4 separate regions of the Homo sapiens genome follow, and regions 2, 3 and 4 are each reported to be linked to region 1. Evidence: microRNA targets listed by miRTarBase, many of them from high-throughput screens and not tested one by one. Region 1 holds a microRNA gene; each other region holds the end of a gene's coding sequence.

Evidence for each region. Region 1 holds the annotated microRNA hsa-miR-4796-3p (UAAAGUGGCAGAGUAUAGACAC, at 5,251-5,272, opposite strand). A microRNA usually pairs through its seed, bases 2 to 8, with sites in the 3' UTR of a target mRNA and lowers its output. Matches are read on the target gene's strand: a 7mer-m8 pairs with bases 2 to 8, a 7mer-A1 pairs with bases 2 to 7 and ends in A, and an 8mer does both.
Region 2: the mRNA of KIAA2013 is a reported target of hsa-miR-4796-3p. Seed matches in the 3' UTR shown: 7mer-m8 at 6,272-6,278.
Region 3: the mRNA of PXN is a reported target of hsa-miR-4796-3p. Seed matches in the 3' UTR shown: 7mer-m8 at 4,125-4,131.
Region 4: miRTarBase lists HSPA8 as a target of hsa-miR-4796-3p. Seed matches in the 3' UTR shown: 7mer-A1 at 6,455-6,461.

The regions. Positions count from the first base shown.
Region 1 is chr3:114,738,202-114,745,322 of GRCh38, forward strand. MIR4796 (microRNA 4796) reads right to left here and starts at 5,324; the gene lies at 5,244-5,324. The region is part of intron 5 of ZBTB20 (zinc finger and BTB domain containing 20); the gene reads right to left.
Region 2 is chr1:11,913,763-11,920,883 of GRCh38, forward strand. It overlaps KIAA2013, which reads right to left. Exons shown (of 3, transcript NM_138346.3): 3 at 5,829-6,570. The coding sequence ends at 6,553. Among named protein-coding and RNA genes, the nearest start is that of KIAA2013, 9.1 kb to the right of the region's middle. RefSeq lists an enhancer at 1,268-1,327 and a silencer at 3,201-3,356.
Region 3 is chr12:120,206,528-120,213,648 of GRCh38, forward strand. PXN (paxillin) reads right to left here. Exons shown (of 15, transcript NM_001385981.1): 15 at 3,920-6,053. The coding sequence ends at 5,787. PXN-AS1 (PXN antisense RNA 1) reads left to right here. Exons shown (of 4, transcript NR_038924.1): 2 at 18-94; 3 at 3,312-3,407; 4 at 5,848-6,301. Among named protein-coding and RNA genes, the nearest start is that of PXN-AS1, 8.8 kb to the left of the region's middle.
Region 4 is chr11:123,051,103-123,058,223 of GRCh38, forward strand. HSPA8 (heat shock protein family A (Hsp70) member 8) reads right to left here. Exons shown (of 9, transcript NM_006597.6): 9 at 6,387-6,817. The coding sequence ends at 6,632. It overlaps SNORD14E (small nucleolar RNA, C/D box 14E), which reads right to left and starts at 7,054; the gene lies at 6,975-7,054. It also overlaps the pseudogene RPL31P47.

The DNA of each region.
Region 1 (7,121 bases):
TAAATATATTTATCATTTAAAATAACAATTGAATTGTACAATAAGCACTATATCATTGCCCAATTTTTATTTTGATAAAATCTTTTTAAGTGATATCATTTCATGTTAGGCTTTTTGTGCTGCTTAATATTATAATTAATAATTCATATTTTTGTCTTTCTCCTCTCTGACAACTTTTATTTTTAATCGGTGGGCATGTGCCAAATTGGTTTGTTATTTATTTATAATGTAAAATGACAAGGGAATTGAATATGTGAAATAAGATAGATTTTCTTTCATATGACAAAAATTTCTTAGTAATGGGGATGCTTCTTGCTTACCCTTATAGATTCAAGGGTTTTAGAGAGGTTAGGTCAAATGTCACACTTCTCATATAACAACATGTGGTAAGTGCATTAAATAGACTGTTCATTTTTTAAAAATTCATTTTAGTTTTGTGAAGACATCTGGGCACATGCATAAAAAACAGGACAAAACAATATCAAAATTTGTAAAAGACTCCCTATTCCGATAAATCCTATAGTGTCAATTAAGTAAAAATTCTGACCAAACAGATGTATTTGTATTCTTTCCTAAAAACTAAAACAGGCAAACGTAATAGGAATAAACAGAGAACGTTTCAAAGATACAGAATTTCCATTGAAAAAATCAAATGTTCTGTCTGTAGGACTTTATAGAACATTAAATAATCTTTTCAGTACTGTCCATAACCAGAAACCACATAAGCTGGATGCTAGACTATTGACTAGTTATGACAAAAAATTCACAGTTTGATCTCAAGGGCATCAGCGATCCTGGGCTCAGGTGATCCTCCCGCCTTGGCCTCCCAAAGTGTTGGGATTACAGGTGTGAGCCATCATGCCTGGCCATCGTGCCAACGTATTGAAGTGGAAAGAACTAATGCTGAGCAGAGAATGGGCCATACCTGGGTGGTTTTAAGAGGTGCTGCTATAATGAAAAATCACAGGCTCACCCAAGAACTACCGTGGAATCAGAACCTCTAGGGATATGGCCCTAGAATCTGAATTTTAAGCCAGTTCCTGAGGTGCAATTCAGTTTGAGAACTACAGTCTTAAGGCAAAACCTTTCTATCATACCAGAGCTTCCAATTGTCAGGCCCTTTGAATCCACCCTTTGTGTCAAACCTTAGATAATTCAAGAGACATAACAAACGTGATCATGTTACATGCTTCCTCACAGATTTCAGTGTCTCCCATTTCTTCTATTAGTTTAAAAAACATAGTCCACCATCACAGGGCCCTGTTTAAGCCAGCTCCTCCTCTGTGGCTCTGCCTTTGTGGTCAACCTGTGCAAAACTTTGAGGCTGTGACATCACTTAGTCAGTCTCCAACATTTGGAACAAGAGAACTTTTTCTAACAATTTGATCCCAATTCCTATTTTAAGCTTGAGCATTATGAAGGCTGTATCTGTATATAATATTGAACACTTCAAAACAATTTTAGATCTTAATTATTTTGTTATTAAAATGTTGGGGGTGTTTAAGTTGACATTGAGTCAGATGTAGGAACTGATATACAGTGAAGTTAAATCCTTTAGGGTAAACTCATTCAGTGGTAGAGGCTGAACTACAGAGCCTAGGCATTCTGACATTCCACCACTGTGCTTATCAGCTTGCTCCTTGAGCAAACCTTTTCCTGCCTTTATGAGAATATGCCCATTTTATGGGCTCTGTATCTATGAGATATTTTACCTATGCTTATGTACACATGGTGTTTATCTTTCAAAGCTGGACTATGGAAAAGCCTAATTTTACAAACATGTTAGTAAAAGATTATGTAATCTGAGGTGATTACGTTTAAAATGGCAATGATAATGATGTTAATTCCAGTCCTGTGAGGTACTGTTTCTGATCTGGAAAGAGCAGTTTTCTTTTTTAACAGCTTATTTTGTATTTTCATAATCCATTTTAAGGTTTGGTATTAATATAGACATGAGAAATAAAATATAACTGTTGCCATGCCAAATGTATATCAAAAAGTTGCTAATAGCCATGACTGCTATTTGGTTAACTGTATTTCACTATTTAAATAAAATGATGGAAAATGGTGTGTCTAGGATCTCATTCATAATAATGAAAGACAATAGAAACTATTAGCATAGGTATGATGCTAATGAATGGTAAATTTTCAATAGAGATCCATCGACCAGATTGTTTGAAAAATGTTTCCTGTGGGTACGAAAAATGCACACAAACAAACACATGCATCAAAATGTCCATAATTAAGTTTTTAGGGAAAAATAACAATATATGTTGGTTAAGGACTTTCACTTAAATGGCATTATAGATCTTTCAGAAATGAGAGTTGATTTATACTTCAGTATTTTGGTTCCCAAAGGTTGGGACAGTGGGTGGTAGAGGAGAAGTAGAGTAAATGGAAGGTATACATGTATGTGTGTGCATATGGGCAACTTTAAGCACCTTGAATTTAATGAACAAAAAATGTCATTATTCTGTGTTTATATATTTTTGTGTGAAACAAGTACCTTTCTCTATCACTGGAGTTTACATGGATTTTCTCATGATATCTTTTGAGAATCTCTTTAAACACTAAAATACATTTTTCCAAATGAAAACTCCCATAATTCTGCTTTATTAATATCTGAATGAATATTTCCATTGATTTGTCCAGAAGAAGGAACTGAGTACTGTTTAGAGAGCAATCTTTTTCATGATAATTGGCAGCAATGTTTCCCTGCTATCAGAAAGAAAACTATAGAAATACGAAACTTTAGATAAACATGGAGATAAAAATAATATTATGGAGTCCAACTGGTATCTTTGAGGTGAGGACAGGCTGAGATGGACTCCTTGGCTTCCTTCTGTCCAAAAATTTCCTGTTTCCCTATTTCCTACGGTTACCACCATGGAACATGTTAAAATCTCAGTAGGGACTCTGTTTCAACTTTTCCTGTCAAAACACAGTGAAAAAGCTTAATGGAAAAAAATGTCCTTCCTATCTCCATGCCAGGCACAGTGTAAGATCCACAAACTTAAAAGCCAGGAAAATATTCTTTTATGTGCCCCAAAGCTGGGCAAGTGACCTAGTACTACAAAAATTCCCAAATAGGCATGTGACCTGACTAATGTGTGCTGTGAGATGAGTCAAGAAAAATGGAACCATCTGTACTTTTATTGGACAGTCAAATAATTTCTTTCTGTCCACCCAAAAACATAATTTCTATGTTAAGAGTGATACAAGGAGACTTTTAGAAAGTCTAATTTTTAAAATCAGAGATATTAAAATATATGAAAAGTATAACCTATTAAACACTGGTGGAGATAAGCAAATAGGCTTATGAAATCATTATTGCTTTAAAAATTTGTTACCTACTCATTGTGTACTAAGGCTTCTCTACGACATACAGAAGAGGCCGGTGCGGTGGCTCACGCCTGTAATCCCAGCATTTCGAGAGGCTGAGGCAGGTGGATCATGAGGTCAGGAGTTCAAGACCAGCCTGGCCAAGATGGGGAAACCCCGTCTCTACTGAAAATACAAAAAAAAAAAAAATTAGCTGGGCATGGTGGTGGGCACCTGTAATCCCAGCTACTCTGGAGGCTGAGGCAGAGAACTGCTTGAACCTTGGAGGCGGAGGTTGCAGCAAGCCAAGATTGCCCCACTGCACTCCAGCCTGGGTGACAGAGCAAGACTGTAAAAAAAAAAAAAAAGAAAAGAAAAAAAGACATACAGAAGGAAATCAGGGAAAATGGGAAAATGAAGGGAATTAACAAATTGCAATAATCTTTAAGAAGTAGAGTATGAACAATTTTCCTTTTCTAGGATGAAAGCTACCAACAACTGAACTCTTAGAGTGAGTGATGGCAGAAAAAAATAGCAATCAAGAATAGGGGCATGTTAGTTTTTAGACATGTTTACAAAACTCTGCCTTTTATTTCTTAAACCCATAGGTCAACCACCCATCATACCTACATTACCCCATATGACAAGTGGATTTGTTGTATGTTTCAAGTTTTTAATCTTGGTGGGAAGGGGGAGGGCAGAGAAGTATTTATTGGTAAAATATCATAATAAAGGTTGAGCCTGTCAATGATTGTACCTAACAATAATAAATATGTGTAGGAAGTAAGAACGGCAAAAATGAAGCCGGGTAGGATACTGTGGATATGGTGACAGACAAGTATCTATACGAAATCCTGAGATATTTGTCCTCCATTTCATAAATTAAAGTGCCCCCTCTTTTGCTTTACAGATAAGGAAACTGAGGTGCATTATAATAGCAACAGCAGCTGATGTGTAGTAGATCCATACCACAAGCCAGGTACGATGTCAAACATTTAAATGTATCATTTAATTTAATTTTCATAGATCTCCTACAAGACAAGTGCTATTATTTTCATTTTACATACGAGAAAACTAAAGCTGACAGAGATTAAATAACTTGTCCAAGGTTGCATAGTAACTAAGTGAAAGAGCCAAGATATGAACTCAGATCTGTCTGATTTCAAAACCCAGGCCCTTAAACACTAGGCCAGTGGTTTTTTAACCCTGATTGCACATTAGAAGCACCTGGCAAGCTTTTAAAACCTACTGATACTCAGACCCTACCCCAGAACAATTAAATCAGAATTTCTTGTACCTGGGCCCTGATGTGGGTGTTTGTTTCAAAGCCTTTCTGGGTGACTGTAACATATAGCTTGGGTAAAGAAGAATTGTTGGGTGTCTCCCATGGAGGTCAGTATATCTGTGCCAATATGTGAGGTAGTACAAGACTCAAGTGTCCTCAGTCTGTCTGCAGTGGTTTTTCCCTTGCCCCATCATGTTCACTTTGACATCTTTTTTTTATTATGATTTTTGGAGAAGTAATATACAAGTGACAATTTTTTTACAAAGCATTGTCACAGCAGAACATGGTCATAAGTCCATCAAAGAGAAACCTGTTCATATCTATGTACAGGCTATGATGAATGAATACAAAGAAGACTATGTTTATTACTCTCATCCCCAAAGGGAAGTATAAAGCTGGCCTTAAAAGCTGTTCATACCAAAGCTAATCACTAAAATTTGGAATGGCTTCCTCCTCTCCTTTCACAAATGCAATAGGGTAGCCACTGGATCTAAGGGGAAAAGATCCAATTACCACTCTTTACAATGCTTTTTCACTTAGGATCTCAAGACGACTGACAGTCATTCAAAACATAAAAGTAAAGTGAAAATATCTCTAGTAGAAGTGAAAAGAAAATGTCTGTAGTAGGAAGAAGGCCTAAATTTGTGTCTATACTCTGCCACTTTACTGCAATGACTTGAGGCCAAAAGTAAAGTGACAGAGTATAGACACAAATTTACTGCCATGACTTGAGCCTTGATTTCCTTTTCTATATGTACTTAAGCCATATCATCCTTAGGGCAGTGATCCAAAAAATGTGGTCCCCATCAGCATCATGTGGAAACATATCAGAAGTGAAATTATCAGTCCCTACCCTAGACTCTGAATCAGAAACTTGGTGAAGGGGCAGTAATCTGTGTCTTACCAAACATTGCAAATAATTCTGACCACCTCCAGCTGACTCTGATGTATCCACCTCCATGGGGTTGTTGTCTAAGAATAAAAGGAGATGGTCCATAAAATTGTTATTTTTTTTACTATCTACTGAAATCAGAAATTTCAAAATTCTCTCACAGAGATATTTTAGAGAAATAATGTTACAGCCTACATTAGTTAGATAATAACCTCATTTCTGAATTTCACTTTGAATGTGTAGACGAGGCACAAGTCAACCAGAGGTTATGCAATTAGCTTGGAGTCAAAGAGAAAGCAAGGAGTAGAGCTGAGAAGGAAACCCCAGTGTGAACTTGATTTTTATTCAATCAAACTGTTAAGGTACCAACCACGCACTTTCATCTATAATCACAATGAACCTTTTAATAAACATGTTTCTATCCTCTTAGCTTAAAAAATATAACAGTAGCTTTTTGGATTTTAAAACAGATTGACTTCTATACTTCTGGGCTAAAGGCAGCTCAAGAGTCAATAAGAATCACAAGCTTTCCACAGTGAGAAGAAAGTGCAATTGCCCAGTCCTCTCTATCTATGAAGTGCAGACAGTATTCCTCTTCCTCACCTCACACTTTCGATTATTGCAATGGTGGAAACCATGATAAATAAAAGCGCTTATCTAGTGGTTTGGTTTTCACTAAAATTACAGACTTCTGTAACATTATTTGGATACCATAAAACACAAACCAAATTTTAGGAGATGCTTTAGGGTGTTTTTTCCCCTGCCCTCCTGTCGGAAGCCCTCTATCTTTTTACTGTAATTTATCTGATATAGCTACCAAGATGCTTGATACTTTTACATGCAAGGGTGCTGAAAAACAAAGAGCGAGGGAATGGGTTGTTAATGAAATTCTCTGATTGTAAAAAGCACTCTGGAATGATCAGGTGGTAAATAATAATAAGAGGAAATAACATAAAGTGCTTAGGTGCTACAGCGATAGTCACCATATAAATGCAGAAGAGATCAGACATGAATAGAATTTGCATTTTATGCAGCTGCTGTGTGTGTATATAGAATATACAGTAGCTAATTTTTCAATAATGCTGGTAAAATATTGTTCAAAATCTATTCTTGCTGTCTTCTCACTTTAAAAGGCATTATATAGAAAAACACCCATCTGTCCTAGTGCAATGGTGAATGTGTGCAAAGAGCCTAGAAAAAGAGCCTCTTTGCATACGTGAAAAAAAAGAACTCAAATAAAAGGAGATAATGAAGAAGAGACAATAGTAACACTATTAGAACAGCTATGCAGACAAGCACAAAGGTGATCTTTGAAAAACATCAGGGATAAATAACTCTGTTAATGTGTGGCAGAGAAACTACAGTTAAGACATACAGTAATATACCAAAAATATAGACATGCTTTTATTTTGTCTACTGGGCTATTGTGATAGTGATGGTTGTTTTTGAATAGAAAGGAAGAAGAGAGTGGGAAGTAGGATTTCGTTGTTTGTTGTTACTGTTGCTGCTCAGTTTAGAACAACAACATCAACTACACACCAGACCCGTCCAACAGTTCCACAAACAATGCTTACCATGAATCTGCCCTCAATTTTCTTGTTGTTATTTTCCCTTAATACTTAT
Region 2 (7,121 bases), not on the chromosome of region 1:
GACTTTGGCTTAATGACTTATCATCTGGGAGCCTCACTTTCCTCATCTGTAAAACAGGACTGACACTCACCTTGCAGGAATACTGGAGGTCTGTACTGCGCTGCCAACATCTATTCGCCCTCATCCGTGACAAGAGTACCCACAATTTCCTCTGGGAAGCTGCTCCTCTCTGATTAGTGTCTGTTCAGTGGTTGGAGGTTGACCCTACCCCAGCTCTGAGACGGCCTGGCCAGCCTATCCTAATTAGCATATCCCTTTCACCCTGGCCACAGTGATTGACTTAGGGCTGGGCTGTGCAGAGGTGAGCCTCAGCTTTTTGGGTAGGAACACCAGGACTTGGATTCCAGTGGGTTTAATGCTAGGAGGGCATCAAGCTTGTGATAACTGTGGCCATTTTTGTTACCATAAGGGTAGCCAGTCTGAGGATGGAAGCCAATCTACAGGAAACAGAGCTAAGAGATACTAATGCATCCCTAAATCACTTGAGTCCTGGATCAAACCGTTCCTGAAGCTCCTACTAAGCTACACTGTTATGTGAACCAATACTCTTCCTTTTGTTTAACCAGTTTTTGGTTTTGTGGGTTTTTTTGTTTGTTTTTGTTTTGTTTTGATATAGGATCTTACTCTGTCACATAGGCTGGAGTACAGTGGTATGATCTTGGCTCACTGCAACCTCCACCTCCTGGGCTCAAGCGATCCTCCCACCTTAGCCTCCCAAGTAACTGGAATCACAGGTGCACGCCACCACCATGCTCAGCTAACTTTTAAAATTTTCTGTAGAGACAAGGTCTCACTATATCACTCAGGCTGGTCTCGAAGTCTTGGGCTCAAGAGATCCTCCTGTCTCAGCCTCCCAAAGTGCTGGGATTACAGGTGTGAGCCACTGTGCTCAGTCAGAATCTGGTTACTCCTGCACCAGAAATACCCTAAGATTTATTTGGCCAGGCACGGTGGCTCACGCCTATAATCCCAGCAGTTTAGGAGGCTGAGGTGGGCGGATCGATTGAGCTCAGGAGTTTGAGACCAGCCTGGGCAACATGGTGAAACCCCGTCTCTACAAGATATACAAAAAAAATTAGCCAGGCTGAGTAGTCCCAGCTACTCAGGAGGCTGAGGTGGGAGGGTTGCTTGAGCCCATAAGGCTGAGGCCGCAGTGAGCTGTGATTGCACCACTGCACTCCAGCCTGGGCGACAGAGCGAGACCTTGTCTAAAAAAAAAAAAAAGAAGCATCCACGGTCCTATGACTCTCTGTATTCTTGGTTTGTTATCACCAGAGAAGAGTTCCATTTCTCCGCTGGAAGGATATGCCCGTATTGGTGTGTTCCGGCTGCTCTAACAATATACCGTAGACCGGGCAGCTTCAAAACAGCAGAAATTGATTTCTCCCAGTTCCAGAGACTGAAGTTCGAAATCACAGTGCCAGCATGGTTGGGTTCTAGTGGGGCCCCTCTTTCCGGTTGCAGACTGCTGTCTTCTCATTGCATTCTCATATGGCGGAAAGAGGGTGAGGCAGCTCTGTGGGGCCCCCTTAGAAGGGCCCTAATCCCATTCATGAGGACTCTACCCTCATGACCTAAGAACCCCCCTAAAAGCCCCACCTCCTAATCCTATCACATTGGAAGTTAGGACATCAACACAGGGGCCTGGTATGATGGCTCACACGTGTCATCCCAGCACTCTGGGAGGCTGAGGCAGGTGGAATACTTGAGCTCAGGAGCTTGAAACCAGCCTGGGCAACATGGCAAAGCCCCATCTCTACAAAAAATACAAAAACTGGCCAGGTGTGGTAGTGCACACCTGCAGTCCCAGCTACTTGGGGAGCCGAGATAGGAGGATTGCCTGGGCCCAGGAGGTTGAGGCTGTGGTGAGCCATGTTCACGTCACTGCACTCCAGCCTGGGTGCACTCCACAGTTCTCAAAAAAAAAAAAAAAAAAAAAATTTCAACGTAGAAATTTGAGGAGGGGACACAATTCAGCCCATGTCAGTGGCCACGGAGAATCCCACTTCCTCCTGGAAAAATCGTCCAGAGGAGCCACAGGCCTCTTGGTTAGTGCCTTAGCCTGGGTCTCCTACCCGGGGCTTGATCTTGTGGGGACCTTCTGTTTCAGTCCATGTCATGTTGCTATAACAGAATACCTGGGGCTGGGTAATTTATAAAGAAAAGAGGTTTTTTTTTTTTTTTTTTTTTTGAGGCGGAGTGTCGCTCTGTCGCCAGGCTGGAGTGCAGTGGCATGATCTTGGCTCACTGCAACCTTTGACTCCTTGGTTCAAGCGATTCTTCTGCCTCAGTCTCCTGTGTAGCTGGGATACGGGCATGTGCCACCATACTCAGCTAATGTTTGTGTGTTTTTTTTGCTTTGTTTTGTTTTGTTTTGAGACGGAGTCTTGCTCTGTTGCCCAGGCTGGAGTGCAGTGGCGCAATCTTGGCTCACTGCAAGCTCCGCCTCCCGGGTTCACGCCATTCTCCTGCCTCAGCCTCCCGAGTAGCTGGGACTACAGGTGCCCACCACCATGCCCGGCTAATTTTTTTGTATTTTTAGTAGAGATGTGGTTTCACTGTGTTAGCCAGGATGGTCTCGATCTCCTGACCTCATGATCCGCCCGCCTTGGCCTCCCAAAGTACTGGGATTACAGGCATGAGCTACCACGCCCGGCCAATTTTTGTATTTTTAGTAGAGACAGGGTTTCACCATGTTGGCCAGGGTGGTCTCGATCTCCTGACCTCGTGATCCACCCGCCTTGGCCTCCCAAAGTGCTGGGATTACAGGCGTGAACCACCATGCCCAGTCAAGAAAAGAGGTTTATTTACCTTACGGCTCTGCATGCTGAGAAGTTCGAGGGCATGGTGCCAGCATCTGCCTGGCCTCGTAGCATGGTGGAGAAGGTTGAAGGGGAAGCAGACACGTGTAAAGAAGCAAAACCCAAGGGGCTTCCTGGTTTTATAACAACCTGCTCTCTCGGGAACTAATCCATTCCCACAAGAGGAAGAACTCACTCACTCCTGAGAGAAGGCACCAAGCCATCCATGAGGGATCCACTCTCGTGACCCAAACACCTCCCACAAAGCCCCACCTCCCAACACTGCCACACTGAGGGCCAAATGTCAACAAACCATATCCAAACCGTAGCACCTTCTGAGGAGCCGAATAAAATGTGCCTCCGAATTGTCCACGCCAGTGACAGAAGAGGAGAGCTTGTGTCTACTGGCTCCATGTCCCACGGGTGAAGGGTGGCCCCAAACGGTGTTGTCATTCACATGCTTCAAGGCTACATATGCCTGAGTGCCTCGCAGCTTCCTAAAGATGACAGAGGCTGATGTTGGGTGCTGCCAGGACACTCAGACCCATGCAGAGCTGGCTGTCGCCACAATGGCAGGAGTCAAGGTGGCTGAGAGAGGCCGGGTGCGATGGCTCAAGTCTGTAATCCCAGCACTTTGGGAGGCAGAGGTGGGTGGATCACCTGAGGTCAGGAGTTCAAGACCAGCCTGGCCAACATGGTAAAACCCCGTCTCTTCCAAAAATACAAAAATTAGCCAGGTGTGGTGGCACACGCCTGTAATCCCAGCTGCTCAGGAGGCTGAGTGAAGCAGGAGAATCGCTTGAACCTGGGAGGAGGAGGTTGCAGTGAGCTGAGACTGCCATACGGCCCTCCAGCCTGGACAACAGAATGAGACCCCGTCTCAAAAAAAAAAAAAAAAAAAAAAAAAAAAAAAAGAGGTGGTTGAGAGGATGTGAGATGGGACAGAGGTATGAGGTGCAGGTGGATTTTCAGGGAGTGAACACATTTCCAAACCAATGTCTCGGCTGTTGGGAAGCTTCAGATAGTATGCAATTAAATTTTCCACACCAGATTTCAGGCCCTGAAAAAGCAATTTGAAAAAGGCTCTCTGTGGCCGGGCGCGGTGGCTCACTCCTGTAATCCCAGCACTTTGGGAGGCCGAGGCGGGCAGATCACGAGGTCAGGAGATCAAGACCATCCTGGCTAACATGGTGAAACCCCGTCTCTACTAAAAATACAGAAAATTAGCCAGGCGTGGTGGCGGGCGCCTGCAGTCCCAGCTACTCAGGAGGCTGAGGCAGGCGAATGGCATGAACCTGGGAGGTGGAGCTTGCAGTGAGCCGAGATCGTGCCACTTCACTCCAGCCTGGGTGACAGCGAGACCCTGTCTCAAAAAGAAAAAAAAGAAAAAGGCTCTCTGTGCAGCCACAGCCTCCACTGGACCGTGCAGATGGGACCCACCAGGGTTACTGCTTGGCCCGCTCCACCATGGACCACCAGCATCTCCTCTCTACCATGGTGGCCAGCTGGAAGCCCTGTGGACACTGAGCCATGCCACAGAAGCCATCAGACGCACACCATGGGGAGAAATGGCAGTGTGGGGATCCAAGCAAGCCTGCACCGGCATCGAGGCAGAGTTTGCACTCCAGTCACTCCATGGTCGCGTGGCCTTGGACAAATGATTCACTGTGTGAGGTCCAGGTTCCACATCTCTCAAACTGGGATCTTAACCCCCAGCAACCTCTTCATCCCAAAAGGCCATGTTGATGTGAAATATCTAACACGTATGGTGAGCACTTAATGAGAGCTGTACTTTACAAACCTCAGTTTATTGACATTCTAATCATTCGATAGGTATTTCTCAGGCACCACATACAAAGGTTTGTTTTTTTGAGATGGAGTTTCGCTCTTGTTGCCCAGGCTGGAGTGCAATGGCGCGATCTCGGCTCACCACAACCTCCGCCTTCCAGGTTCAAGTGATTCTCCTGCCTCACCCTCCCGAGTAGCTGGGATTACAGGCATGCACCACCACGCCTGGATAATTTTGTATTTTTAGTGGAGATGGGGTTTCTCCATCTTGGTCAGGCTGGTCTTGAACTCCCGCCCTCTGGTGATCTGCTCACCTCAGCCTCCCAAAGTGTTGGGATTACAGGCGTGAGCCACCACGCCCGGTCTTGTTTTACATTTATGGGAGCCTACAACATGCCCAGTTCCAAGTTCAAGAAGGAATGGGAGCTGCAGTTGTTGTGGTCTAACAGCTTTCCGTTTAATGTCACACTGTAAATGACACCAATTGCACCCCAGGAGGTTCCCACTCTGTAATAGGTGAACCAGCCCGTGGCCCACGGCTGGAAGATCACATGTCAGAGCTCTGCATGAGCCAGGGGAGAAGGTGCTGCATGGACAGAAGTAAGTGGGTGACCAGTGCCACTAAAAGCAGAGCTTGAGTTTACTCTCATAACCATCGGCTGTGGGCCAGACATTTGGCTGCTTTGCAGGCAGACCAGGCTTCCCGGTGAGTCATGCTGCTTAAAATGCTGTCTGGGAACGCAGAGAAAGTCTAAACGCCAAGACGCTGAGGACAGCCCCGCAGGTGGACTGCCATGCCCGGCTCGGCCCCTTTTTGGTCCCCAGAGTGGACCCTTCTCCTCCCCACAGAGGGGAGGCATCTGATGGTGGCTTCAGCAGACAACCTGGAGAAGAACCACTCAGGGTTTGTCTTGCTGACGTCCTATAGCCAGCAAAACCCAGGGCAGGAGAACCCTGGCTCTTTAGGGCAGGTGGGGGAGAGGGCATCTTAGCAGGGAAGGAGCTAGGGTAATGCCAGAAGCAACCCACTCAGCAGGGCCACTCAGCAACCCCCTGGCGAGCAGAAAGGTGGCAAACAACACATCTTCTGGGCAGACTCCTTTGAAGAGAGGTAGAACATACCAGAAAGGAATAGCATTGTGACAGCAGGGCCGGGTGGGTGTCCTGCTTCTGACAGATCTAGTGCTGAGGGCAGACGTGGTGCATGTCTCCAGGTTTCAACCACACACAAACCGGTCGTGAAAGTTTGAAAGATATTTATTTAAAAACAGAACAAAAAAGCTTTGGTATTTCAAAACCTGACAATCATCAATCACTAGAAAGTTAAACACCTCCCCTGAAGCCCCAAAGTACAAAACCACAGATGTCCACAGGCTCCTAAAAAAGGGCGTGCAAACCCGAGGATGACAGCACAACCCGCACCCTCCTACAGGCAGCAGCACAGCCACCCTGGGGGGCCCCGGCCCAGCCTCGGGACCGTGGGGCCTCCGAACGCCGAGATGGACATCACCGCCAACACTCACCATCTACAGGGGATGCAAAAGCCATCTAGCAAAATCTCAACAAAAATAAATTAAAACTTCATTAAGAAAGAACACGTTAAATTAGGAAAAGGACACAACTTTTCCTAGACAAGAGTCTTTTCAAAAGATGATCTATTTCCTGGGACAGAAGAAAGGGGGAAAGTGGAAGGAGTGAGTTCCATTTCAAGTATTTGCCATACAGGTTCATTTTATTGAGTGGAAAGCTTACAAAAGGTCCACTGGCCCCTTCCCTCCCCACGTGACACTCATTCCTTCCAATGCAAACTCTGGTGTATCCACACTCACTTCTGCGTCACCGGTTTCCCCCAACAAGGCACAAAGGGCGGGTGCTTCCAAAGGATCCCTTGCTCCTGGCAGCGGGACTTTCAGTGCTGGGTGTCTTGTGCAAATGGTGGCTGAAAGCAGGACTGTTAGTTCACTCAGACACTGGGATCTTCCTGTTCAATTCACAAAACAAGTGTGATTACTGTTCACTGCCAACCCCAGTGGCCAGCTATAGAAATAGGCTACGGAGACAACCCTAGTGGCACCACACCCTGGCTCTGACCCAGCCTTGCAGAATTACCACGGACTCAGTGGCCTGGGCCCTTCTGGAGCTGAGTGTTCACTGGCTCCACTCTGGCATGGCCCAGCTTGAGCCTAAGTCAAGGAGAGATCGGTCAGTACCCCATGAAGGTAGTTTGGCTCATTTGCCCAACTGTGGGAGGAACCGAAGGTGCACTCAAGAGCGAGGGCAGAGAAGCCACCAAGCAGCAGGGAAAAGCAGCCGCCTGCCAAACAGACGGCAAAACCCACACGATGCACATTTGGCACCTGTCCTAGTGCAGCTAGTTCAGAGGCGGCTCACAAGGAAGGCCTCTGTGCAGTCCTTTTTGATCTGACTTTTGATTTTTCTTCGAACTTGAGGAACTCAGCCCTGTCTCCCACTCTTCTGCTCTTTCAGGTCAAGTTCTGCTTCCTTTTCCAAGTCCTGGTCTTGGGCCAGAAA
Region 3 (7,121 bases), not on the chromosome of region 1:
CATGTTCTTCCTTCCAGTCTCTTTGTCTTCATCGTTTCCGGCACTGATGTGAGCACATCATAAGCACAAGACCTGGACACCTTTACAATCAGAGGTAGCATCTGTCTGGAACTGTATCTTGACTCTCACTGGTGCTTTTCCTTTGGTTGATGCAAAGCTTTTGAATCCTTTAGGGAGATGTCATTGTGAGTATCTATGATACTATGCTACTACTATCTATGATCATTGAGAGTATCTATGGTACTATGATACTACTATCTATGATCATTGGGAGTATCTATGGTACTATGATACTACTATCTATGATCATTGTGAGTGTCTATGATAGTCTCCTGTGCCTTCAAAATCTTTGCCTTCTCCATAGAACTTTCCCAACTAGCTTGTAAGATCCAAAGGTGTGAGACACACTGATCCAGAACATTCAGGGAGTGTAGTGAGGGGAAGGAAATATAAATTGTCTCGTCAGCAGTTAATTTTTATTTTATTTTATTTTATTTTTTTTGAGATGGAGCCTCGCTCTGTCGCCCAGGCTGGAGTGCAATGGTGCAATCTCAGTTCACTGCAACCTCCGCCTCCTGGGTTCAAGCAATTCTTCTGCCTCAGCCTCCAGAGTAGCTGGGATTACCGGCACCCACCACCACACCCAGCTAACTTTTTGTATTTTTAGTAGAGACAGGGTTTCACCATGTTCGCCAGGCTAGTCTTGGACTCCTGAGCTCAAGTGATCTGTCGGCCTCGGCCTCCCAAAGTTCTGGGGTTACAGGCATGAGCCACCGTGGCCGGCCGGCAGTTATGTTTTGATGGCCTTTTGAGAATGGAAGCCTGTGTGGATTCCGTTGTCTGCCTTGCTGTGGATCCTGAAAGGTGTTCTGTTGGCACTGGGCGCTGAGCCAGGGGGCAGGCTGTGGTGGTCCAATGTTCAGTTGGCATATTTCCACTTGTACTTCAGGCACCCAACTTCCGCCATAGCCTAGGGCTTCAGTCTTCACCCTGAGATCCCTGGTTCCATCAAGATGCTCAGCTCCATTCGGCAACCCGCGGACACCCGAGATCTCTTTTTAATGGCAATGTATTACTGCACACTTCGTATTGTCCTAAGTACTCTGTGCACATTACTGAAGCTAATCTTTGCAACAATCCTCTGAGGAGATACAGTACTGTCAGTACTCCCATTTTATCGATGAGAATACTCACAGGAAGGTTAAATAATTTGCCCAAGTCTCTCAGCCAGTAAGTGAAGGCTTCAGAACTGAAATCTAGGAGGAAGTTCAAAGCCCCTGGGCCTCACTGTGCTATACAGTCCATTCCAAACCCTGAGTCAGCCTCCCTCTGAACGCACTTTTCCAAGTATATACATATGCACAAGGTACATTTCCAAGGACCTCCTGGCTCTGATGATATAAATATCATCTCTAATTGTAGTACATCAATATAACGGAATACCATGAAGCCATTAGAAAATGGTACAGATCTATATTTATTGACATGGGAAAATATCCACAAAGCAAAGCGAAAAGCACATTACAGTGAAATATACCATACCTGGCCGGGCATGGTGGCTCACGCCTGTAATCCCAGCACTTTGGGAGGTCGAGGAGGGTGGATCATTTGAGATCAGGAGTTCGAGACCAGCCTGGCCAACATGGAGAAACCCCGTCTCTACTAAAAGTATAAAAATTAGCCTGGCGTGGTGGCGGGTGCCTGTAATCCCAGCTACTCAGGAGGCTGAGGCAGGAGAATCGCTTGAACCTGGGGGGCAGAGGTTGCAGTGAGCCATGATCGCGCCACTGCACTCCAACCTGGGTGACAGAGTGAGATGCCATCTCAAAAAAAAAAAAAAAAAAGAAAAAAAAGGAAATATACCATACCCATTTCTAGAAATAAAATAAATCCAACATGGGCTGGAAGAATAAACCAAGTTATTCTCTTGAACTCCTGGGCTCAAATGATCCTCCCACCTTGGCCTCCCAAAATGCTAGGATTACAGGCATGAGCCACAGAGCCTGGCCCCATCATTCTCTTTGGGTGAGCGTTGAAGGTAATTTTCACTTCTGAGCTCACTATAGCATGGGAAGAGTTTAAACTAGAATTCAACATGCTGCTTTTGGAGAACCGTTCCAAACAACAGGGAAGCTGTGAAGACACAGCTCAAGGTTAAACAAAACTGCCCAGGAAGCTCTAGGACAAGCTTGTCCAATCCATGGCCTGTGGGCCACATGCGGCCCAGGATAGTTTTGAATTTGGCCTAATGCAAATTTGTAAACTTTCTTTTTTTTTTTTTTTTTTTTTTTGAGACGGAGTCTCGCTCTCTCGCCCAGGCTGGAGTGCAGTGGCGTGATCTTGGCTCACTACAAGCTCCACCTCCCGGGTTCATGCCATCCTCCTGCCTCAGCCTCCCGAGTAGCTGGGATTACAGGCGCCCGCCACCATGCCTGGCTAATTTTTTGTATTTTTAGTAGAAACGGGGTTTCACCGTGTTAGCCAGGATGGTCTCGATCTCCTGACCTCATGATCTGCCCGTCTCGGCCTCCCAAAGTGCTGGAATTACAGGGCAAATTTGTAAACTTTCTTAAAACATTATGAGATTTGTGATTTTATTATTTTTTTTCTAGTTCATCAGCTATCATTAGTGTATTTTATGTGTGGCCCAAGGCAATTCTTCTTTTTCCAACATGGCCCCAAGGAAGCCAAAAGATTGGACACCCAGCTGGGCGCAGTGGCCCATGCCTGTAATCCCAGCACTTTGGGAGGTCGAGGCAGGCAGATCACTTGGGATCAGCAGTTTGAGACCAGCCTGGCCAACATGGTAAAACCCTGGCTCTACTAAAAATACAAAAATTACCCGGGTGTGGTGGTGGGCACCTGTAATCCCAGCTACTTGGGAGGCTGAGGCATGATAATTGCTTGAACCCAGGAGGTAGAGGCTGCAGTGAACCGAGATCGTGCCACTACACTCTGGCTTGGATGACAGAGTGAGACTCCATCTCAAAAAAAAAAAAAAAAGCCAGGAGTGGTGGCTTACGCCTGTAATTCCAGCACTTTGGGAGCCAAGGCAGATCACTTGAGATCAGGAGTTTGAGACCAGCCTGGCCAACATGGTGAAACCCTGGCTCTACTAAAAATACAAAAATTAGCCGGGTGTGGTGGCAGCTGCCTGTAATCCTAGCTACTCAGGAGGCTGAGGCAGGAGGATCCCTTGAACCTGGGAGGTGGAGGTTGCAGTGAACCGAGATCATGCCACTGTACTCCAGCCTGGGCAGAGTGAGACTCTATCTCAAAAAAAAAAAAAAAATTGGACATCCCTGCTCTAGGGCCTAGGACTGGAGCTCTGGATCTGACCGGAGCAAAGAGGAAGCACGCAAATCCGGACATGACGACGAGGAGGCAGTAGAGACCCATCCTCAACTGTAAGTAACTGCCTTCGGCAGGGAAGGGGCTAACCCACGTTGTGTGGGCTCAGGCACGGCCGCGTCTGGTTCTGTGCAGGAACACAGGCAGAGGCAAGCCCTGGGTCCGCATCATGGCTCTGCCCTCACTCAGATTGCCTTGTACATGTAGGTTCTTGTCCTAGAGCCTCTTTCCCTACTTCTAAATGAGTGGAAAGCCACCCACAAGCCCGTGAGTGAGGATGCCCTTGGTAAACCCAGGTGATCACACCCTGGGCAGGCCCTGCCCCACAGGGCCCCATCCCGCTGCTCCCCAGCCTGTCCTCACCAACTGCCCAGGCAGGAGCAAAGCCCACGGGGAGGACCTGTGACCACAGGCAAGGACCACGGACCCCAGCCCCAGGGATTTTGACCTCAAGAAAGGAAACATCCACAATTTACCCTCCATCTGGTGATCCAGCTGCATCTGGGGTGGGTTTGGTCTCTGCTGGGACCATGAGGTTCAGACCACCAAGAAATAGCACTAGCACAGGTGAAAATCATGGGCAAACTTTATTGGCATAAATCACAGGAATTGAAATGGGAAAAGCCAGCTTGGAAGTTTACAGAGAAAAAATAAAATCAAAATCAAATTTTCAAATAACCACTGACTCAGAGAATGGACCCCAGAAACCCCAGTCCCTCTTGGGGAAGATCTAGGGTGGGTCACTATAAACAGAGCGGTAAGGCCTGCGGGTGAAAGTGGAGACATCAGACCTTTGGAGGGGCTGGGCTGACCTTCCCCCAAAAAGGAGGGACCCTCTTCGGAGACCCCAGCACACTCGGCTTCTGCCAGGAGGCCAGTGGAGTGGTTTGGACTGTCACCATTAGACCCCGGTGGGGCCCCTTTCTCCTCATCAGGAGCCCAAGGCCTGGCTCCTCTTTCATCCTTGGTAAAGAGCTCTGGGGGGTTTCCCCAGAGGAGCCTGTCCCTCTGCCCCAAATCCTATCATGCTCCCTTATGACCTTCTTTCCAGACCCCCTGAGTGCCGATCCCACCTGTGAAAGGGGAGGAGCAGATCTGGGGAAGGGATATGCCCAGAGGAAATCAACAAGACCAAAGAGACGTCAGAGTCCTGATGGCCAAAATCAGACACCAGCTTTCCTGAGAAGGCAGAAGAGAGAGCCCCATAGAAGCAGTGGGGGCTCAGAAGGTTCAGTGGGTTCACAGGGGAGCAGAGGCTCCTGAGGGCTTACTCAGACAGGAAGCAGCCCCCCAAAACATACTTCCCCTTCTCCTCCCACAGAAACAGAACAGATAAAGTTCAGAATTCTAGGCCCAAAAGGGTGCAACACCCTTCAACCAGTTTCAGTGAAGAGCTTGCTGGCCTGGGAAGTAAAGAAGGGGTTTCCAAATACAGCAGTTTATAAAACAGTCCTGGTGAGCTATGAAGTGAAAGAGGGGGAGTCACAGAGCTGCTCCCAGTTCACCTGCTTGTGCTAAGAAACAATAAAATACAAATTGCTTCCCCACCCCAACCCTCAGTACAAAGCAAACTTCACACCAGAGCCACCATCAGTGACAGGCCCAGTGGCGGTGGATGAGGAAGAGAATACAAAAGGGAACGTCTTTAAAATCTCTTCAAAATCATTTTGTATAGAGAAGTAAAAGCAACTCAGGCGATATGAATTCAAACCTCAGTGTAGAAATCTATCAAAGTCGGTACAGTGTCCAGGCACGCCGTCCCGGAGACGGAGGAAGTGACTAGAAAACATTATTGCTGGAGAGGCTTTTCTCAGTAGAACAAGAGCAGGTATAAAAGGGGAGGGCGGGTCTAAAAGGCAGGGGCAGTCGCCAGGCCTAGGGCACTGGAAGGGTAGGAGGAGCACAGAGAACCTTCCATGGCCCCTTTGGTTCTCTGCCTTTGGATGGATGGATTTATGCTGGCATTGTCTGGAGGGAGCCGGGTGTCCCCCAATAATCACAGAACAAAGACAATTAGGTCGGGGGAGGAATAAGGATAAAAAGAGACCCCAACAGACCCTGCCTGCCCTTCCCTGCCCCCCGGCTGCACTGCTGAAATATGAGGAAGAGATGGCTCCAGTGTGGGGTGCTGGCCAGGCCAGTTCGTGGGGACGTACATGGGCTGGGGTGGAGCCCCCAGCCTCTACCCCTGGGGAGGATGGAGAGTGGGCAGCCTAGGGAGAGCTACAGGAGGGAGGAGGGGGCCCAGAGGCTCTGGCAGGGGTGAAGACAAGCAGGGGGACCCCTCACGGCCCTCTGTCCATCCCGCACCAGCGGAGGACAAGGGTTCCAGTTTCAGTCGGGTTTACCCCTTCACCCCCGGGTGAAGTCTCTAGGTCACAGTCGCAGTTGGGGATGCTGGCTGGGGAAGGGGGGCAGAGACAGGGGCAGGGCACCTAGCAGAAGAGCTTGAGGAAGCAGTTCTGACAGTAAGGCTTGTCGTTCTGCTCCTTGAAGGTGCCCTTGTTGAGCTGCTTGAGGCAGAAGGCACAGACGAAGTGCTCGGGGTGGAACTTCTTGGCCATGGCGGTGATGCAGCGGCCGGTGATGGGCTTCTGGCAGCCAGAACACAGCGAGCCGCGCCGCTCGTGGTAGTGCACCTCACAGTAGGGCTGCCCGTCGTGCTCGAAGAAGCTGCCGTTCACGAATGGCGTGAAGCATTCCTGCCAGGCGGAGAGAGGGGCTCAGGGAGCTGCCCCTCGGGCTAGAGCTGCACCCTGTGTGATGGGGCCGAGGTGGGCATAGTCGGCACGCTCGGAGTGACTCCTACTTGCTAGGCGTTTCCCATGTGCCGTGTTGTCCTAAACGCTCATTTTTCATTTTTATTTTATTAAATAAATTTTTTTTGTAGAGATGGGGGTCTCACTATATTGCCCATGCTGGTCAAATGTGGCCTCCTGCAATCCTCCCACCTCGGCCTCCCACAGGGCTGGGATTATTTAGTTCTCCCAACAGGGGAGGCAACTGAAGCACACAGGTGAAGTAACTTGCCCAGGGTCATGCAGCTACTGAGGTCACAGCCTGGATTCATACACAGGTCTGACTCCTGAGCACTTAGCCAGGTGGCTGTAACAGTGTTCCCAGAAACACAGGTGTGACACTGGTCTGTAGTCAAACTCTGCCTCCTAGATTCTCATTGGAGATTCACATCACATATAGGTAGAAAAGGCTCTGAGAGGGGCCGGGTGAGGTGGCTCACACTTGTAATCCCAGCACTTTGGGAGGCCAAGGGAGGCGGATCACCTGAGGTCAGGAGTTCAAGACCAGCTTGGCCAACATGGTGAAACCCCGTCTCTACTGAAAATACAAAAAATTAGCCAGGCATGGGGGCGTGTGCCTGTAATCTCAGCTACTTGGGAGGCTGAGGCGGGAGAATCACTGGAACTCAGCAGGCAGAGGTTGCAGTCAGCCAAGATCGTGCCACTGCACACCAGTCTGGGCAACAGAGTGAGACTCCGTCTCAAAAAAAGAAAAGAAAAGAAAAGGCTCTGAGAAGTCCTGCAGGGAACAGTGTTTCCCAAACTCATTTGGTCAGAGAGCCCTTGTTGAATCATTAATAACCCCTGTGGGGCCCCCAGAATGCAGTGGTTTTGGAAACCACTGCCCATTTCTGTTGAGTCTGCTAAATACTTGCATTATCTCATTTAGTTCTCACACACTCTCCTCCCAAATAGGAATGGCCCAGGGCCGCTGCACAGGGCTGGACTGGGGGACATGTCTACCTTGCTCCT
Region 4 (7,121 bases), not on the chromosome of region 1:
CGAAAAGGTCTGGACCCAGCAGAATGGCTCTTGCAGAGAAGGGCGGTGAGAAGGACCATTCTGCCATCAGCGGAGGTGATCATCTGAGACTCCACCATCAACATTTACATGCGTACCCGTGAAGTGGGCTTCAAAAAGGGTGCCCCTTGGGCACTCAGAGAGATCCGGAAATTGGCCATGGAGATGCGGACTCCAGATGTACACATTGATATCAGGCTTAACAAAACTGTCTGGGCCAAAGGAATAAGGAATGTCCCATACTATATCCATATCCATGTGCACAGAAAACATGAGGATGAAGATTCACCAAAAACAGCGCTGTACCTATGTACCTGTTACCACTTTCAAAAATGTATAGACCGTCAACATGGATGAGCGCTAACTGTTGATTATAAAATAAAAGTATAAAACTACCAAAAAAAAAAAAGCCCAGTAAACCCAGCACAGCCATGATTATTCCATTCTTTGAGAGTAAGAATCTTATTTTTTTTTTCTTTTTCCTTCTTTTTTGTGGAGTGGGGGGGCGGACAGAGTCTCACTCCATCGCCCAGGATGGAGTGCAGTGGCACCATCTCAGCTCACTGCAACCTCTGCCTCCCAGGTTCAAGCCATCCTCCCATCTCAGCCTCCCAAGCAGCTAGGACCACAGGCATACGCCACCATGCCCAGCTAATTTTTGTGTTTTAGTAGAGATGAGATTTTGCCATGTTGCCCAGGCTGCTCTTGAATTCCTGGCCTCAAGCAATCCACCCACCTCAGCCTTCAGCTGAGCAATATTGTTCTTCCTCATCCATGTTCCCAATTACAATGGTAGGCCTTTGTCTCTGTCTCTGTCTCGCTTTCTCTTTTCTCCTTGCAGGGGAAACCAGCCCTACGCCTCTTTCTTTTTCAGTTAATATATGTATTTATTGAGATCATACAATTCACCCATCTAAAGTGTGTAATTCAATATTTTTAGTTTACAGAATTGTGCAATCATCACAATTAATTTAGAACAATCTGATCACCCCAAAACAAATATCCCATACCCTTTATCACTCTGTATTTCTCCCCGTTTTTCCCCTCAGCCTATGCAACCATCAATCTTTTTTGTCTTAAAAGATTTCCTATTCTGCACATTTCATATCAATAGAATCATATGTGTTTTTTTATGACTGGGTTCTTTCACTTACCATAATGTTTTTAAGGCTAATCTATGTTGTACCACATATCAGTACTCAATTCCTTTTTTTTTTTTTATTTGAGACAAAGTCTCACTCTGTTGCCCAGGCTGGAGTGCAGTGGTGTGATCTCAGCTCACTGCAACCTCTGCTTCCCGGGTTCAAGCGATTCTTTTGCTTCAGCCTCCGGAGTAGCTGGGATTACAGGCACACACCACCATATCCGGCTAATTTTTGTATTTTTAGTAGAGATGGGGTTTCACCACGTTGCCCAGGCTGGTCTTGAACTCCCGACCGCAGGTGATCCGCCCTCCTCCTCGGCCTCTCAAAGTGCTGGGATTACAGGTGTGAGCCACAGCGCCCAGCCCCATCAGTGTTTTCCAAAATGGCTATACCACCAACAGTGTATGAGGGTCCTAAGTTCTCTACATCCTTGCCAGCTTGATTATACGAGAAATTCCTAATGTACGAGAAATTCTATCTCTGTGATAACTTGCATTTCACTGGTGGCTAATGTTGAGCATCTTTTCATGTGCTTATTAGCTATTTGTTTATCTTCATTGAAGAAGTGTCTATTCAGACATTTTGCCCATTTTAAAAAATGGGTTGTCTTTTTGAGTTATGAGTGTTTTTCATATATTCGGGATAACAGTCCCTTATCAGATATATGATTTATATTTTATCTAGTTTTATGGGTTTGCCTTTCACTTTCTTGATGGTGTCTTTATCTTGGCAACATGGCAAAACCCCATCTCTACACAAAAAAGTACAAAATTAGCTGGCCGTGGTGGCATGCGCTTGTGGTTCCAGTTACTCAGTAAGAGGATCACTTGAGCCCAGGAGGCGGAGGCTGCAGTGAGCTGTGATCATGAAACTGCATCCCAGCTTGAGTGACAGAGCAAGACCCTGTCTAAATAATAATAATAATAAAATAAAATAAATAAAAAATTGAGCTGGCTGCATGCTCTGAATGTTCTGTGCTGTGGCCCAGTGTTCTAGGACAGGCCCCATTGCTCCAGGCAGGCCCTGACAGTCTTATACTGCAGACTAGCTACACTGTCTCTGTTCATCCCACTGACTCCACATAGTGCCCAGATCTCAGGGGCAATGTAAAGACCTTTATTCCGGTCAAGATCTTGGCAATTCTGTTATTGCCAACTTTCCTTTACCCAAATCTGCTCCAGGTTTGATCACTTTCTTCTCATCACATGCAACTCTAATGTTGGCTCCCCACCCTGCAAGGAACAGAGAGTGAGTCTGAGCTCATCCAGCAACCACCCTCCCACTCTTCCAAGAGAGATGATCATGAGCAGACTATTATAAAGCACAAAGGGAGCACATTCTACCCTCTTGGGTACCTGCTCCACCCACCCCTTTTTATTCATTCACTTGACAAATATATGTTGCTTATGTGCCAGACACTGGGAACACAGGTGTGCACACAGGTGCTTCTCCATTCTTGGGTGAGCTTCCTGAGGAATTTAAGCATTTCACCAAAGTGTGTTGAGAAACCCAGAAGCAGTTCAGGGGGATGAGGGAAATAATATGGGGACTTAAACTAGCCAGTGTGGCTCCGGAAAGGCTATATTCTCTGAGCTTTTTCTTCACCTCACCCTCTGTATTCTAAACCTGTCTGTATTACCCATCCCTCCATACCCATTGCCCAAGTATCCTGAGATCTCAACTCAAGCCATTACTCCCACCTAAGCAGGGCACTTGCTCAGTTGAGAATGCTGGGCCGGGCGCAGTGGCTCACACCTGTAATCCCAGCACTTTGGGAGGCTGAAGCGGGTGGATCACCCGAGCTCGGGAGCTCGAGACCAGCCTGACCAACATGGAGAAACCCTGTCTCTACCAAAACCACAAAATTAGCCGGGCATGGTGGCGCATGGCTGTAATCCCAGCTACTCGGGAAGCTGAGGCAGGAGAATTGCTTGAGCCCGGGAGGTGGAGGTTGCAGTGAGCTGAGATCTCATCATCGCACTCCAGCCTGGGCAACAAGAGCGAAATTCCATCTCAAAAAAAAAAAAAAAAAAAGGAGAAAAAGAATGCTTTGCCTGGAAGGTAATTGTGGATATTTAGAGCTGACTTCCTTTTCCTTCTTCATTATTTGCTGTGCTTCCAGCTAGAAAGCACAACAAACAGCACAGACAATGCTACAGCAGCTTCCCCCGGGGTACTCTGATAGTTTTATAAATAGCTACTGCCATCTAGTGGACAAAGATGACTACATCAGTACGTAGACCCACAGATACGGAAACTCTCAGCGTTTCTATTTATGTCCTGCAACCACTTCATCCCACCTTAATGGAATCCAAAAGACCACTTTTCCTTTGAAAGCCTAAAGCCTGGAACATTGTAAGTACTCAATATAGTTTGGACAAAGGATTTTTCACGGGCATTGTCATTTTTTAATTTTATATGTAACAAATATTGTAGTAATATTGTTGGATAATTTTATTATTGTGGCTTTATACTATTGCCTTAGAAGTTTAAGTCTATTAAGGGCCAGGCGTGGTGGCTCATGCTTGTAATCCCAGCACTTTGGGAGGCGGGCAGATTGCCTGAGCTCAGGATACTGAGCCTCGGTACACGATGAAACCCCATCTCTACTAAAACACAAAACATTAGCTGGGTGTGGCAGCGTGCACCTGTAGTCCCAGCTACTCAGGAGACTTAGGCAGAATTGCTTGAGCCCGGGAGGTGGAGGCTGCAGCAAGCTGAGATCACACCACTGCACTCCAGCCTGGGAAACAGAGCAAGACTCCCATCTCCAAAAAAAAAAAAAAAAAAGAAAAATGTCTAATAAGGTCAAGTAGAAACTGAGAGAGCTATAGTAATAAAAATACATTTTAGAATATAACCATATTGCCAAGTTCACCAGAAACCTGCATGTAACTCCTAAACTGGACCTAGAGATTAAGTTTTTTGGCCTGTCTTCCCAATCCAGTAGCGCCCTGTGCAGCAGGGACAGAACCATCTAGGTCATGGAGTTTCCTCTTATAAACTCAAACCTCCTTACAGTAACTTGCAAAAGCAAATTTTGCCACCGTGTAGATTTGTGCATGCACAGCCAGAGCATCCAAACATCCCTCCATTGTAAGGTTATTTGGAGAATCAAATAAGGGGAGAAGCAATTGCCATTAACTCGAAATTCAATGGGAAGTGGTAGACACTGCTGTCCCTATGGTTACCTTCTCTTTCTCTAAGCCTTACCTAACAGCTAATTAGACATTTATAGGGTTTAAACATCTTTACTGGTTTTTTAAACTACTAGCCCACAGCAGAACCCTAATTACAAACAATAGGCCAGGCACAGTGGCTCACACCTGTAATCTCGGCACTTTGGGAGGTCAAGGTGGGGCAAACCATTTTGAGGTCAAAAATTCAAGACCAGCCTGGCAACATGGCAAAACTCCCGCTCTATAGAAAATATGAAAATTAGCTGGGCATGGTGTCCCAGCTAGTCAGGTGGGAGAATGCAAAGGTGGGAGGATGCAAAAGTGGGAGGCAATGTCTGCAGTGAGATCGCACCACTGCACTCCAGCCTAGGTAAGGGAGGCTGGAGGCTCTCAAAAAAAAAAAAAAATCCATTTCCCCAGATTAGACTATGTGATGACATTAAGTGTCCACCTGAGCCTCAGTATCATCTATAAACACATTCTGGTTTATAAATAGATGAAAGTATAATACGAATAACTGAGAAAACCTAGCAAATATTAATTCCCACCTTCCCAGGCCCCAATTCCTTGCTATACATTACACATGTCCAACAAGTTATTATCTGTATAGGGGAAACATTGCCATATTTACTCCTCTAATTTTGTGTTTTGCTAATGAACATTAAGCTAACATTAACCTGAAGTTCAAAAATTTACAGTAACAGCTACCACTGAAAACCTTCCACATATTTTTAAGATTCCACATGAAACGAGATCAAAGTATATTTACCCTTTAGTCTCGTTGAGTCAAGGCATCAAAAAAGTTTGTAGCATCTCAAATACATGGTATGGCCATGTGCAGTGACATACACCTGTAGAGCCAGCTACTTGGAACTAAGGCTGGGTGACCACTTGGACCCAGGAGTTCCAGTCCAGCCTGCACAAGTGATAACACACCCCTATGGAAAACTGAAGCCCAGGTAAGATTCTCACCCAAACAAAAGAAACATGCCAAAAACGTGCATTGCTGTCAGGTGCAGTGACTCACACCTGTAATCCCAGCATTTTGGGAGGCCGAGGCGGGTGCACCACCTGAGGTAGGGAGATCAGCCTGACCAACATGGAGAAACCTCATCTCTACTAAAAAATACAAATTAGCCAGGAATGGTGGCGCATGGCTGTAATCCCAGCTACTTGGGAGGCTGAGGCAGGAGAATCCCTTGAACCCAGGAGACAGGGTTTGCACCATTGCAATGAGATCGTGCTATTGCACTACAGCCTGGGCAACAAGAGTAAAACCCTTCAAAAAAAGAAGTGTGTACTACTTGTCATTTTTTGTAACCTTGGAGAAAATATGGAATGAGAAGTATATCAAATCGTGCTACAAATTCCCACTGAGATACCCAGACATTAGTAGCCCTTCAGTACCAAAGAGAAAAACTGCAGCTCCTCCATGAATTAGCTTTTTGGCATATGCTAAGATTAGCTAGTCCACTGAAATCTGTCACGTACGTAATGACAGGTAACAGCCTGCTCCCCTAGGCTATCACAACTCACTGTTGGGACCTTAATTAACCAGGTGGCAGCTTAGCTCCATCCCCGACCTTCTGAATAATCTTAACTCAGGAAGAAATGGAAGCCCACAGGGCAGTGGCTCATATAAGGGATTGACATTCAGATACCTCTGCCATGTAGCTTAATATTCACTGCCCATTATTTGATTCTGATCTCTAAATTCTTACTCATCTAGCACAACCCTCCAGGAAAGCCTCTGCTCCTAGGCAGGCTTACACACAGAATAAGTTTAGAAAACACCATTAAGTCAGCTTTCTGCCTCTCCAGCCTAAGGACTAAGGTTAGTTTGATCCAGATCCAATTTCTTATGCTCCCCTTCTCAAAGCTCTGAATTCCAAAATGTACCATCCACAATGCTCTGAAGGGCAACTTGCCACCCAGCCCTTGTTAACTCAAGCTTAAGAGGAAGGAGAAAGTAAGAGTCACATAATCACCTAAGCCTACTTCTCCCACCAGCTGGCCTGGGAGATTATTTAAAGACTCAAAGCAATTGTATGGTGCCAATTTTAAATAGTTTTATTTAAGACATTGCATTTTCCACTTACAATACAGTGTTTATAAAGTGCAATGTTATTTCCTTCCCCTGTGCATATGTTCCATATTCAAGTATTGAGAATGCCCAGTAACTTACTATAGCAGCTTAACTTTTTAAAACTGCCACAGAATTTGCTACGAATTTAGGTCCTTCAAATGTTTTAAATGTGTGGAACAATGCTACATCTACACTTGGTTGGCTTAATCAACCTCTTCAATGGTGGGCCCTGAGGAAGCACCACCAGAGGGAGGAGCTCCACCACCAGGAAATCCCCCAGGCATTCCTCCTGGCATGCCTCCTGCACTCTGGTACAGCTTGGTGATGATGGGGTTGCAAACTTTCTCCAGCTCTTTCTGTTGATGTTCAAATTCTTCCTTCTCAGCAGTCTGAGGAAGAGAAAAAGGAATTACTGCAAGTTCTTTTAATGTTAATAACCCTTCTTTCTCCCTGACGCAATCTGATACTAAAAGTCTGGCGCAAACTCTTACAAGAGGGCCACTACCAACATTAAAATAGGGCCTTATTCTTCCTTAACATCTTGGGTCACTCAGACATCCAAGGAAGGTAGTTGCCAACACCTTGAATTCTGGTGGAAACCGCGAATGTTTTGGACCATTCATCATTGTGACCCTACACTGAAATCCAGCTCAAGCTTGGTTTACCATCCCCTTCCCCTCCATTGAGTGGGGG